Linked DNA regions of Homo sapiens. The protein of the gene in region 1 purifies or fractionates together with the protein of each later gene. This does not show direct contact. Each region holds a gene or a part of one and is shown in the gene's direction. Other genes may lie near its edges.

Region 1 (3,500 bases):
TTTGTTTTGTTTTGAGACAGTCTCCCTCTGTCGCCCAGACTGGAGTGCAGTGGCCCAATCTCTGCTCATTGCAAGCTCTGCCTCCCAGGTTCAACTGATTTTCCTGCCTCAGCCTCCTGAGTAGCTGGGATTACAGGTGTGCACTACTACACTAGGCTAATTTTTGTATTTTTAGTAGAGACGGGGTTTTGCCATGTTGGCCAGGATGGTCTTGAACTCCTGGCCTCAAGTGATCTCCCTGCCTCCACCTCCCAAAGTGCTGGGATTACAGGGTGTGAGCCACCTGCCCAGAAGGTGTTCTGTTTAAGGATCTGCTGTCAAAAGTTTTCTAAATAGGTTTTTGTTCTGTTATCTTTTTTTTTCTTCTTTTTTTTTGAGATGGAGTCTCGCTCTGTCGCCTAGGCTGGAGTGCTATGGTGAAATCTCGGCTCACTGCAACCTCCGCCTCCTGGGTTCAAGTGATTCTTGTGCCTCAACCTCCCAAGTAGCTGAGATTACACGCTCACTCAACCACACCCGGCTAATTTTTGTATTAAATATATTTAGTAGAGATGGGGTTTCACCATGTTGGCTAGGCTGGTCTTGAACTCCTGGCCTCAAATGGTCCACCTGCCTTTGTCTCCCAAAGTGCTGGGATTACAGGCATGAGCCACCATGCCCCGCACAGCCACTCTTATCTTTTAAAAAATGATCATGTTGGGCTGGGCGCAGTGGCTCATGTCTGTAATCCCAGTATTTTGGGAGGCCGAGGCCAGTGGATCACTTGAGCCTAGGAGTTTGCCACCAGCCTAAGCGACATGGTGAAACCCTGTCTCTACAAAAAATGCAAAAATTGGTGGGGCGTGGTGGCACACACTCACCTGTAATCCCAGCTGCTCCAGAGGCTGAAGTGGGAGGATAGCTTGAGTCCAGGAGGCGGAGGTTGCACTGAGCTGGGATCACACTACTGTACTCCAGCGTGGGTGACAGGGCGAGACCTTGTCTCAAAAAAAAATAAATAAATAAATAAAAAAGATTATGTTATACCAGATAGCTGCTTCACATGGTTATTAGGGTCTTCTCAGGAAAATATGTAACAGTGCCAGCCAGCTTGCTTGCTCTCTTTCTCTGTCCTGTTTGCTCCCCCATCCCCTTCTGCTCTTCTCTCCTTTTCTACTGTCCTCCTTCCTTCTTTCCTTCCAAGTCTTCCTCTGGTTGAATGGCTCTGTGTAGGATATTTTAAATTCATTTTTGGAAAAAAGAATGTTAGGGGTAGAAGGTATTTGATTTACAAGTGGCAAATCCATACAGATCTGCAGCAACCTCAATTCTTGCCTGCTCAGAAAAAAATAATTCCACTGAGGGGCATAAGGCAGAAAAAGAGACTGAGGCAAGTTTCTGAGCAGGAGTGAAAGTTATTAAAAAGCTTTAGAGCAGGAAAGAAAGAAAAGTACATTTGGAAGAGACCCAAGAGGGCAATGTGAAGGTCAAGTGCAGTGTTTTTTGTTTTTGTTTTTGTTTTTTTGTTTTTTTGAGACGGAGTCTCGCTCTGTCCCCCAGGCTGGAGTGCAATGGCGCGATCTCGGTTCACTGCAAGCTCCGCCTCCTGGGTTCACGCCATTCTCCTGCCTCAGCCTCCTGAGTAGCTGGGACTATAGGCACCTGCAACCACGCCCGGCTAATTTTTTGTATTTTTAGTAGAGATGGGGTTTCACTGTGTTAGCCAGGATGGTCTCGATCTCCTAACCTTGTGATCCGCCCGCCTCGGCCTCCCAAAGTGCTGGGATTACAGGCGTGAGCCACCGTGCCCAGCCAAGTGCAGTGTTTAACCGTAATCCTAGGACTTTATAGGCTGACCCACTTCTGGCGTCTTGCACCCCTCCCTTCTCCATGATTCATCCCTTAGGGTGGGCTGCCTGCATGCACAGTGCCCTTCTTAAGCTTGGGAGGTGAGCATGAGCAGTGTGTTTAGGAAGTTGTACGCATGCCCATCTGTGGCTTTCTTTTTCCTGTGGAGTGCCCCCAGAAGGTCATACTCTGCCATTTTGTCTCCTGATGTGTATGCCCAGGAAGTTGCCCCTCTCTGGCATCTGCATTTAATTAACACTTTAATGTGGCAGCTGTGGACCCTCAGGAGATTGTCTCTCCTTGGCGCTGGCTGCTAAATGATCGTTTTTAGAGAGGCAATATGTTAACTGTTGAATGGGCACCTGGTGATCACCTGACATTCCTGGTAGGTGGGAAGAGCCCTCACCTGCCCCGCTCATGCCTGCCTATCTGTAACAAGAACACAGAAGTTTGAGGGAAGCGCCAGAACTCCCCTCTAACCCGGTTTGTTTGCAGTAAGGTCGCTTATCTGCAAGGAGTAAGAGGCCATGCTGAGTGAGCTCAGTGGGGAGTTGGGGCAGGGAGAGCCCAGGTTGCCTGGAAGTGCAAACCCACAGGCTGTCTCTATGTCCTCTGTCCTGCTCTCTTCATCCAGGGAAGCTGGAGGACTGCAGTTTTGCATCCTATCCTGCCCTGAGCCTCACTTTGGGCTGTCAGCCAGCCTTGTCTCCAGCCTGCTCACCACTCACTGATGCTTTTTGCGCCTCTTAGTCATAACTGCTCAAACAAGGCTCACTCTGATGAAGAGAAGGGGGTGTAGAAGAGGAATTATCAAGGTGTCATTCTGGTATTTCATCTTGGGAAACCAGAAACCTACCAAACAGCAAGGGTTTGCATACTGGAAGACTCCTCAGCCTGCCCCAGAAGGTCAGCATTCCTTCCCTCTCAACTAGTTCTGTACAGCTGGAGGAAACATAAGGTGTTAGAAAGTTTCAGCTATGGTTTTGGGTTTAGCTTTTAGGATTTTAGGAGATTCTAGGCCTTTTGAAAGAAAAATGAGATAGTAAGATCGAATGGCTGCCTTTGACATATTTGATTTAATCACAACAAAGGAAATTGCCTGGCGTTAAGGAACCTGTTATTTATCCCTCAGAGGCTCTCCAGCAGAGAACCCAGGCCCTTCACCATACTGGTGCATGGTTCCTGCCACTTGTGCAGTCCATTCCGAAGTTTCTTACAGATGAGGTGGGTGACTGCAAACAGGCACTGCTGCTTCTCCTCTATGTCAGAGTAAGCACAGGCAGCACAGGGTGGCTGCACATCCTGAGTTGTCTGGGACAGTCCTGGTTTACACCATTGCCCTGTTTTAATTTTTATTAGTGATATTTTTCACTCAAAGCTGTCCCCAGTTGGAAGATAAAGGTATGTTGTGACTGCGATTATGCGGCATGTGTGGTTTGCCTTAGAGAAAAGAGAGGTGACAAAAGTTCTAAGTGAAGAAGATAAAGTACAGCTTGACCAGCTGATAAAGATGTTGTGGGGTTTTGGAGGAGAATTTCAGCAAGAGCAGTTGACTCCAGATGATATGCAAGGCTGCTTTTGACCTCTCTGTCTGAAAGGACATAGTTAAAATCCAGTATTTGTTTGCCGTTCCCCCTTTATTTATTTATTTTGAGATGGAGTCTCACTCTGTT
Region 2 (3,278 bases), on another chromosome or scaffold:
GATGCAGGTAGGGCAGGTGAACTGTTGCTGGCCTGGCCAGCAGGCCTAGGGTCACATGGTGATTGGCGTCCTCCTGCCACCCCTTCTCCATGCCAGGGTGCCTGTGGTGGGTTTGCCCAGCACGCATGACCCCAGGTCCCAAGGAGAGTGTGAACTGAGGCCTGGGTGGTGAAGGCAGGGCCTCTCCTCAGCCCTGTGTCCTGTGGGTGCCAGCCAGTCCCATCTCGCATTTTGGGGTGCCCTTTCCCTGCTGCCAGGGGACTCTTCATTTGTCCTTACCCTAGAATCAGCCCAGACACTGGACATCACCCAGACGTGGCCCTTCAGGAGGTGCACAGGGCAGGGGCAGGCCCGTCCCTCCCTGCCCCAATTTGCTGGGCTGCCTCAGCCCAGGGTCTGGCCTTCTCCTTGGTGAAGGTCTGCTGGGCCCCTGTCCACCTCCTGCTGGGAGGAGGAGATGGGGAGAGGACCAGGAGGACACCGGAGGCCCTGTCCCCTGCACTGTGAGCTCAGTCAGGTCCATGAGCTGCCCACCGTCCTGGCCTTACTGTGCCCCCTGCCCCACCAACATAGGTGAAAGCACCTCCCCTCTAAGGAAGACCATAGAGACCCCAACACTGTGGGACCCCAAAGCTCCTTCATGCTCACTGGAGCTCCCACCGTGGGTGCTTGCAAGTCCTCAGCGCTCCCGGGGTACAGCCCTCCCCTTCCTGCCCTCTAATGTCCTCCCCTCCCTTGCCCTTCCCTCCACTTCCTTTCTCTGCCGTCCCCTCCTCTCCCATCTTGTGACCTCTTTACTGGCGGGGCCTGGAGCCCATGATGGACACTTGCGGAAGGAGGGGTGGCGGAGCACCCCTGAGATGACATCGCTGCCTGCCCCAGAGCACCCCGCCTCTCCCTGTGACTCAGTTCTTTGCAGCCCAGATGTGAGCATGTGCACCCTGGGACCTGCTGCCCGTTGGGATGCCCAGGCCAAATCAGCCCCTCTGCCTCCATGCTGCACTGATTGCAAGAGTTTCCCACATCTGCAGAGGCCGTGGGCTCAGCCCCACACCAGCCAGGCCACCAGTGTTGATAGCGGTGAGGCGGGGACAAAGGGAATGTCTCAGTTCACAGTGTGGACATGGTGGAGGTCTCGGCCTTGCGAGACAAGGCAGGGGGAGGGGATAGGAAATTGGGGGTATTCTGTGACTCCTGGGCCACCGGGGAGCCAGAATCTTCCAGCCAGACTGGATGGGCAGGGCTTAGCTTCCTGATGCCGCCCATTCACCACTTTCACCCCGGGAACCTACCTGGGCATCATGGGAGGCAGAGCCTGAACCCCAACCCAACCCTAACTCTAATGCTAACCCCTAAACCATCCCCCACCCTAACCCAATCCTCGCCCTAACCCTAATGCTAACCCCTGACCCGACCCAATCCTAACCCTGATGCTAACCCCTGACTCAACTCTCACCCTAACCCTGATGCTAACCCCTGACCCAATCCTCACCCTAACCCTGATACTAACCCTTAACCTAACCCAACCCAGCCCTAACTCCAACTCTAAAGCTAACTCCTAACCCTAGGAGAGGAGCCCAGGCCGGGCCCTCTCCCTGCTGGTTTCCTGTTGGGCTTTGGAGCCCCAGATGCCTGCCCAGAGGCTTCCTTGTGCGGGGTGGGGTCCAGCAGTGGGGGATGGGCCCAGAGCTGGTATAGCCACCAGCAGAGCCATCCTGATCCACAGGACCATCCCTGGTGGGGTGGGGCCCCCTGGGGCAGGAAGGCCACTGAGGCCAGGGAGACTCCCAGGCCCACTCACGGCGCAGGCCCCACAGGAGCTGGCTGGAGGCTATGGGTGCGGGGCGTGGGCCTGCCGGGGGTTGCGTGACAGGCAGTGGGGAGTGGGTTGTGCTGGCAGCTGTGGGTGAGTGAGGAGGCTCCTCTCATGAAGGGCCCTGGGGAAGTGGAATCTGGCCCTGAGAGACCCCCGGCCTCCTCTGCAGGGGCTGCTGGCAGGAGGGGAACCGGGGACCACCTCCCGCCACAGAGCCTGGGGCCCCCAGCCTTGCCTACAGGGAGGGTAGATGAGAGTGTAAACTGCATATGAGGTTGGGCTAAACCTGGACATGTGTTTCATAACCAAAGCAGCCAGGAATCTCCGGCTCTGCCCAGTGATCATCTGGGCAGGACATGGGGACGAGTGTCCAGGCTGAAGTCAGGGCCCGGCCAGCAGAGGGCCATTTTGTATTGAGCTCCACAGCTGGTCACATTCTGTGGAATGTGCAGACGTGCACGGCCCATCAGACAGGGTCTGGAGTGGGGCTGCCGTCTTGGGCAGCTCCTCCCGGGTGTCTGCAAAATGCAGAGGTCACCAGAGCCAAGGCAGCAAGGCAAGGAGCCCGGCTTCTAAGGAACTCTGAGCAGGTGTGGTCCATGGCTGGGAGGCAGCTGGCCCCACAGCACATAGCACGGAGGGCGGCGCGGAGTCCTGGACGCTCTTGGCAGGTCCCCTCATGGAGGATGTGGGGGATTGGCTTAGGCCTGGTCTGGCTGGCCTTCCTGGACCGCAGTGGCCAGGAGCTGAAAACCGTGACCCCAGTCTCCCTGCAGCTGTTCTTGATGGGATTTCTGTTCGCCAGTCAGATGCATTTGCACAGGACTTGGATCCTGAACTGTGTAACCTGGAGAGGCAGGTGTGAGCGGGCCATGCTGCTGGCCCAGCCTGTGCCGGTGTCTGTTTCTGTTGTCTCTCGGCCCTTCTGTGAGCCCTCAGTAAAGCTCTTCGTGCTTCAGTCAGCAAGTGTGGATTCTGTCGTCGGCAACTCTGCGGCCCAAACCCCGAGCCTCCCCCTCCCCCAGACCTTGCAGTGCCATGGAGCTGAGGGACCTGTGGATCCACAGCTGTGGCCCCGGAAGGGCTGCAGGAGCTGAACCTGCGTGAGCCCCGCAGAGGGTGCAGAGCCGGCTTGTGCAGGCTCCCAGCAGGCTCATGACAGCGCGGATGGTTAAATGTAGCTCCTGACAGCCAACTGTTAAGGTTTCAGGCATTTTTGCACCAGGTGACATGATGGTAGCCTGAACGTGACCTTGGCAGCAGTCTCTACATCAAGGAAACTGGCAAATGTCAACATGCTGGGTACCCTCGCTCCTGCCGCCGCAGGCTGTCAGTGTCTTCCAGCCCACACTGCGGGGGGCCTTGTTGTGTGGCTGCCTCCCAGGCTGGGGCGAGGGTCTCCAGAGACCACCATCGTGCAGGCTCTTGGTCAATAGCAGGGTGTGGTGCTCCTGCCAGGGGA
Region 3 (3,500 bases), on another chromosome or scaffold:
CTTTAACAGATGTGCTAGGGAAACACTGTGAAGATAGCAGTCCCCTGACCATTGGATGCAACTTGCAGCATTATTGCATCATCTTCTAAAAAGAAAGAACTGAAAGCTAGAAATGTCTGTACTTACTCTGTAGGTTACAGCAAAATAACGATGAGGTGGAAAAAATGTAGTTAGGCACAGCTTGGTTTTATACATTGTAGGGAGACATGAGACATCAATCAGTATGTGTAAGATGTACATTGGTTCAGTCCAGAAAAGTGAGACAACTTGAAGTGCTGGGGGTGGGGTGAGGGGGCACTTCCAAGTCACAGGCAGATAAAAGACAAATGGTTACATTTTTTTTGTCTTTTTTTTTTGAGACAGAGTCTTGCTGTGTTGCCCAGGCTGGAGTGCAGTGGTGAGATCTCGGCTCACTGCACCCTCCACCTTCCCAGGGGTTCAAGCAGTTCTTGTGCCTCAGCCTCCCGAGTAGCTGGGATTACAGGCATGCGCCACCACGCCTGGCTAATTTTTTGTATTTTTAGTAGAGACAAGGTTTTGCCATGTTGGCCAGGCTGGTTTTGAACTCTTGGCCTGAAGTGATCCGCTCGCTTTGGCCTCCCTAAGTATGGGCTTACAGACCTGAGCCACCGTGTCCAGCCGGTTGACTCTCTGATTAGCCTTTCACGGAATATACAGTTTACCTGTGACAAAGGTAGAGGAATAGTCACTTATGCCTTTGTCTGGCTTAGTGAATCTGCAGTTTTACATAAACAGTAGGGCAGAGGAAGCAATCAGATATGCATTTTTCTTAGGTGAGCAGAGGGATGACTGAGTTCTGTCCTTTGTTTGTACCTGTGAAGATAAACTGTCAATTTACATTGCCTGGGTGAAATTCAGCAGAATTGTTTTGAGGGGAAGATCTTGAGGCCCACAAGGAATTTCCTTGTAGGTAAATTGTAAGGGACGTATATAGCTTTTTTTTTTTTTTTTTTTTTTGAATCTTTGTAGCTATCTTATTTAGGAATAAAATGGGAGGCAGGTTTGCCTGATGCAGTTCCTAGCTTGACTTTTCCCTTTGGCTTAGTGATTTTGGGGTCCCAGAAATTTATTTTTCTATCACAGTATGTCCTTATGATGTCATTATAGTCTCAGGGTTGTCATAAAATTTAGAGTGGAATGAAATAATTTTGATTCAGGTTAATCTATAAAGTTTGATGCCCAACTGTGCTTCACATAGGAGAGAGTGGCTTAGTGTGACGTCGTATCTACATACCCAAAATAGGAATCATAATTCTAGATCACTTTTTAAAAAGGACATAGAGCTGATTATTCATATGTTTTGTTTCTTTTAAATCAGTCACTGGTTTTATCCTGTGCTCCAAAAGATATTACCACTATTTCTCAAAGTGTTTAGGCATCTGGATAACAATCAACAAGTTCATTCAGTTTTCCACATGTTTTGGTCTCCTGGGAGCCAAGCACCCAAGCTGCTGATTTATTTGAGGAGCAGAGAGAAAGACATATTTTTGTTTCTTCAGTTTTCTGATTTATTTGTATACCTGCCAGAAGTTTTAGAAACCACAATGCCTGGCATGTTAAATAAGATCATAGTGAAGTTTGCTGGAGAGTGGAGTTGGGAAGATGAGGAGTGCCAATGATTTTACAAGGAATTATTTTCACAGTTTTGTCCTTTGGAGACAGGACTCTTGAGTTGGAGGAAATGGGCCAGCCATGTGCTGGGAATATATGCTAAGAAATAACTGCTTTTCTGTCTCTTGTGTTTCTACTCCTATGGTAGCAAAACCACATACAGACATTTAGGTGACGTGACTGGGCTGCTGTGATGATACAGCCTCAGTTTCATTTCAAGTTGCTGTAATGACCTGTGTTCCTCTTTTTAAAGATAATGGGAAATTCATCCGAGTTCCAGAAAGCCGTCAAGTTAGTGATCAACACAGTTTCATTTGACAAAGATTCCACCGTCCAAGTCTTTGAGGCCACGATAAGGTAAAATAATGAATATTCATAAAATGAATTGGAGACTTCTTTTTATGTGTTTAAAGAAAAAAATACCTTTGAGGGTCTTTTTGCCACATGATCCAGGCAGGGAGTCCATATGGGCTTTATGGGTGCAGTGTGCATTTTTCATGTTCATATCTGTCAAAACTGGAACAATTATTTCAAAGTAATCACATTCCGGACTGAAGGGAAAGACACGTTTGTATTTTGTTTTGTTTTTATAGATTAAACTCTTTTTTTTTTTTTTTTTGAAATGGAGTCTCTGCCACCTAGGCTGGAGGGCAGTGGTGCAATCTTGGCTCACTGCAATCTCCACCTCCCAGGTTCAAGGCATTCTCATATCTCAGCCTCCAGAGTAGCTGGGATTACAGGCACTCACCACCACACCTAAGTTTTGTATTTTCAGTAGAGATGAGATTTCACCATGTTGGCCAGGCTGGTCTCGAACTCCTGACCTCAAGTGATCCGCCTGCCTTGGCCTCCCAAAGTGCTGGGATAACAGGCATGAGCCACCATGCCTGGGTACATTTATGTTTTAACGGGGGTGTAAAATAGGTGTCTGTCTAGTACAGAATTTCATGGTTTCCCTTTATAGTCTGATTTCATTTTCTTCTTTCACCGTGTCCTAGGACAACCCCTACATATTTCTGAAGGAAATGAGAGTTTCCCATCTTACCACCCACAGAAAATCACTGCTTACCATTTTAGTATATTTCTTTGTTAGGTATATCTCTCACTTCTATTTCTCTCTCTGTCTCTCTCTTTTTCTCTATTTGTTTAGTGGATTGGGATCATGCTGTATACCTAGTATATTGTATATTGCTTTTTTTGATACATTGTGGTTATTTTCCTGTTTACATCTTTTGAAAATTGTATCAACTGCATAACATTCCAGTTCACAGATGTAATACTTATTTAAAATTAAATTGGTGAAAACCTTTGTTCTGACATATATCACAGCCTACTTCAGATCTTTAGAATGGGACTTTATGGGTCTACAAGGACTTAGGTATAAGCTGGTAGCCTGCTGCCTCTTAGTAGGTCATTTTTTCCTCCTCCTCTTCACCTTGCCTCTTTACCAGATGTTACGGTGTTAGGGAAGTTGCTTGGCAGCCAAAACAACAAAAATTACTTAGTATTTGTTGTCTTACCTTTCTCTGTTTTTTTTTTTTTAATTTGAATTAAATTAAATTTTTTTTTTCATTTTAGAGCAGGGTCTTGCTCTGTTGCCCAGGCTGAAGTGCAGTGGTGCTATCACGGCTCACTGCAGCCTTGAACTCCTGGGCTCAAGCGATCCTCCCACCTCAGCCTCCCAAATAGCTGGGACTACAGGCAAATGTCACCATGCCCAGCTTCTGTTTTTTTATGAGTGTTTTCCCCAAGTGAAATAAATCAGGAGTAATTTAATAATACTAATAGGTAATATTTATTCTGAGAACAGTTAGTACACTCTTATTTTTTTTTTTAAGAGACAGGGTCCTGCTCTGTTACACAGGCTA
Region 4 (3,500 bases), on another chromosome or scaffold:
CATAGTGCTAAAACGTAGCACATATCATCAATATTGATAAACTCTATCATCAAGTTACTTACACAATTTGGTTGGATAAATAAGAAAATCACTCATAAAAACTCCATGTGTAAATGAGGGCTAAACAGAGTGTCACCTAATTTATCAATGAGATAGAACTCTGAGATCTGCTGCTCTGAGAGATGGCTCCCAGAGTAGAAGACCTTGAGTCGGCATTGATGGTGGTTGGGATTTGGATAAGGAGAGAAAAGGGGAAGGGAGAAGGGTACACTCTAGGGAGTAGAAACATTTAAGCCAGGATAATTATGGCAGAGGGTATTTGTGGGAAACTGGTTGAATTTGTGGGTGACTGCTAGAAAGGTTGTTGCTTTCCTGGGATATTTTCTTTGTATCTCAAGATACTTTTATGTACTGTAAATTTAACACTTCCCATGAATATTTATTATCATTTTTTTCTTACAGAGGAAAATTTGAAAACTTATTAAATGTTCTAGAATACTTGGCGTTGCAGTGCAGTCATTTTTTAAATAGAAAGGATATCATGGATTCCTTAAAGAATGAGAACTTCGACATGGTGATAGTTGAAACTTTTGACTACTGTCCTTTCCTGATTGCTGAGAAGCTTGGGAAGCCATTTGTGGCCATTCTTTCCACTTCATTCGGCTCTTTGGAATTTGGGCTACCAATCCCCTTGTCTTATGTTCCAGTATTCCGTTCCTTGCTGACTGATCACATGGACTTCTGGGGCCGAGTGAAGAATTTTCTGATGTTCTTTAGTTTCTGCAGGAGGCAACAGCACATGCAGTCTACATTTGACAACACCATCAAGGAACATTTCACAGAAGGCTCTAGGCCAGTTTTGTCTCATCTTCTACTGAAAGCAGAGTTGTGGTTCATTAACTCTGACTTTGCCTTTGATTTTGCTCGACCTCTGCTTCCCAACACTGTTTATGTTGGAGGCTTGATGGAAAAACCTATTAAACCAGTACCACAAGTAAGTGAACCCTCAGCATTCAGTTTGGGATTCACGCAGAGGCCTTCAGTGCATAGTTGGTGGCTGCCACTTGCCAGTAGGATCCTGAGGCTAAAGTCGGGATAGGCAAGGGAGGCACCTAGGGCATGCTTTTAAAGGAAGTGATGAGTTTCAGTGTTGTGCAAGTATAATGTTAGGCCTTGCACCATCCTGAGATCAAGGGCATCTTTATATGGATTCTTCTGGCTCCTCTCTTGCCACACCCTAGTCCTAGCCTTGATAAAATAAGCCCTGTATTAAAGTTTCATTTTTTGTTTGCATTTTTATTTTGTGTGATCACATGTACAATAAACATGTAGTTAGTGCCCATTACATGCAGTAATTGTTAAGGAGATAAGCTGCTCACAATGAAATGACAACACTATGGATTCGGAGTAAGCAGGGTGGATCTGTTTGGGTCTGACAGCAAGAACTGCCGGTGTTATCTCCAGGGTTCCCTGCCTGTAGAGCCCTGGCTCCTGGCTCCACCTAGATCTTCTGGCTTGATTTCTCTGGGGTGGACCCCTGCCACTGTAATTTGCATATGCTGCTCAGGTGATTTGAATGCACAGCGCAATTTCACAACTCAGAACCTCTGCTATAGAAATTTTTCAAAAGGAGGAGAGCTAAGATGAGTTGGCTGCCTGTTGCCTCTGAGCACTGGGTTCCCATTTTACAGAAGTTATCATATTTAATATCCTGCCACCTGTAGGGAGGTGTGATCATCTTCATTTTTATAAATGGAGAAGGACAGAAGCTCAGGTGATGTAGGTGTCCTTCCCCCACCATGTATTTCAGAGGTCCTAAGGGCCTGGACTTTGCAGCCACCCAAGCGTCTACTCTTTTAACTTGCACTGAGTGAGCAGGAAGAGTTGGGGAAAGACCTATGGGTGATATGGGCTTTGCATTTGTGGCAGGAAGTTTTAGGAATGGAGCTGAGAGGGAAAGCACCCCAGGTTGGGGAGCAGGGGTCCCAATACGTGGAGATGTAATTGAGATGGCCATAAGGCTGGCTTCCCTGGGTGGCACTGGCTACACTAGTGGAGTAGAAGGTTCAATTGCATGAGTAAAGCTGTGGGGATTTACCAGAAACCTTAGCTATCAGGTGGGTGGATCAGGCCTCCACCATGGAGTAAGGGGAGGACATTGTTAAGAGGATAACAATGGGAGTAAGGGTTGTAATGGCTGTGAGACAATATACACTTAAAAAAAATTATGTTTCTTCTCTGCATTTTCCAATTTTTATATAATGGTCTTATGTTGCCTTGTCAGTATAAAAATGATGACAAGGCTGTTTTAAAGAAGTCCTTGGGAATGGTAAGTGGTATGCTGGCTGGAATCCAGTAGAGTCTGAACCACGTAATAGAATGATGGGTTGGGAGCTGGGGTGAGCCCCTGTAGGGCAGAGAGAATCAGAATCAGAGTTCAAAGAAATATTTGGAAGTAAGAATTGGCAAAATTGTGCCAAACACAAAATGAAGACATTAGATATTGTGAGCCCAAAATATATGACGCTGGTCTCACCAATTTAGAAACTTTATTTGCCAAGGTTGAGGATGCACCCATGACAGCTTCAGGAGGTCCTGATGACATGTGCCCAAGGTGGTTGGGGCACAGGCTGGTTTTATACATTTTAGGGAGACATGAGACACCAATCAATATGTGTAAGATAAACATTGGTTTGGTCCAGAAAGGCCGGAGAAGGGGATTCTAGGTCATAGGTAGACAAGAGACAAACAACTGCATTTTTTGGAGTCTCTGACTAGCCTTTCACTGAGTGCACAATTTACAGAAATAATCACTTATGCCTTAGTCTGGGTTAGTGAAACAATAGGACAGAGGAAGCGAGCCGACATACACTTGTTTAGGAATGGAATGGGAGGAAGTTTTGCCTGATGCAGTTCCCAGCTTGACTTTTCTCTTTGGCTTAGATTTGGGGATCCTGAGATTTATTTTCCTTTCAAAACACTAACTTTGTTAAGAGCTACCTGGGGGACTTTAAGATATAAGCTGTCCAGGCCTGCTTTTGGGACAGAGCATTACTACTTTATTATTATTTTTTTAATCCACCACATCAAGGCATTGATCATTTCTTTATGTTACAAACATTCCAATTATATTCTTTTAGTTACTTGAAAATATACTACAAATTATTGTTGACTGTAGTCACCCTGTTGTGCTATCAAACACTGGACCTTATACATTCTAACTATATTTTCGTACCATTAACCATACCCACTCCCCCAGCCCCTAACTACCCATCCCAGCGTCTGGTAACAATCGTTCTGCTATCTCCATGAGTTTAATTGTTTTAATTTTTAGCTCCCATAAATGAGTGAGAACATGCAGTTTGTCTTTCCGTGTCTGGCTTAGTTCACTTAACATAATGTATTCTAGTTTCATCCATATTGTTGCAAATGACAGGATCCCTTTGTTTTTTATGGCTGATGAGTTCTCCATTGTGTACATATACTATATTTTCCTTATC

The links. Proteins that work in one complex are often made in the same cells at the same time.
Region 2: the proteins of MPPE1 (region 1) and LRRC3 purify together in Homo sapiens (affinity purification with mass spectrometry; 2 studies listed by BioGRID and IntAct, with this or other methods). This does not show direct contact.
Region 3: the proteins of MPPE1 (region 1) and EDEM1 purify together in Homo sapiens (affinity purification with mass spectrometry; 2 studies listed by BioGRID and IntAct, with this or other methods). This does not show direct contact.
Region 4: the proteins of MPPE1 (region 1) and UGT3A2 purify together in Homo sapiens (affinity purification with mass spectrometry; 2 studies listed by BioGRID and IntAct, with this or other methods). This does not show direct contact.

Annotation. Positions count from the first base shown.
Region 1 is NC_000018.10:11,901,818-11,905,317, reverse strand, and holds part of MPPE1 (metallophosphoesterase 1), read left to right. Parts: intron 1-2,461; exon of another isoform or gene 2,462-3,051; intron 3,052-3,500.
Region 2 is NC_000021.9:44,459,419-44,462,696, forward strand, and holds the end of LRRC3 (leucine-rich repeat-containing protein 3 precursor), read left to right. Parts: 3' UTR 1-2,778; downstream 2,779-3,278.
Region 3 is NC_000003.12:5,197,707-5,201,206, forward strand, and holds part of EDEM1 (ER degradation-enhancing alpha-mannosidase-like protein 1), read left to right. Parts: intron 1-1,885; coding exon 1,886-1,989; intron 1,990-3,500. UniProt on the Homo sapiens protein: Extracts misfolded glycoproteins, but not glycoproteins undergoing productive folding, from the calnexin cycle.
Region 4 is NC_000005.10:36,046,383-36,049,882, reverse strand, and holds part of UGT3A2 (UDP-glucuronosyltransferase 3A2 isoform 1 precursor), read left to right. Parts: intron 1-462; coding exon 463-994; intron 995-3,500. UniProt on the Homo sapiens protein: UDP-glucuronosyltransferases catalyze phase II biotransformation reactions in which lipophilic substrates are conjugated with glucuronic acid to increase water solubility and enhance excretion.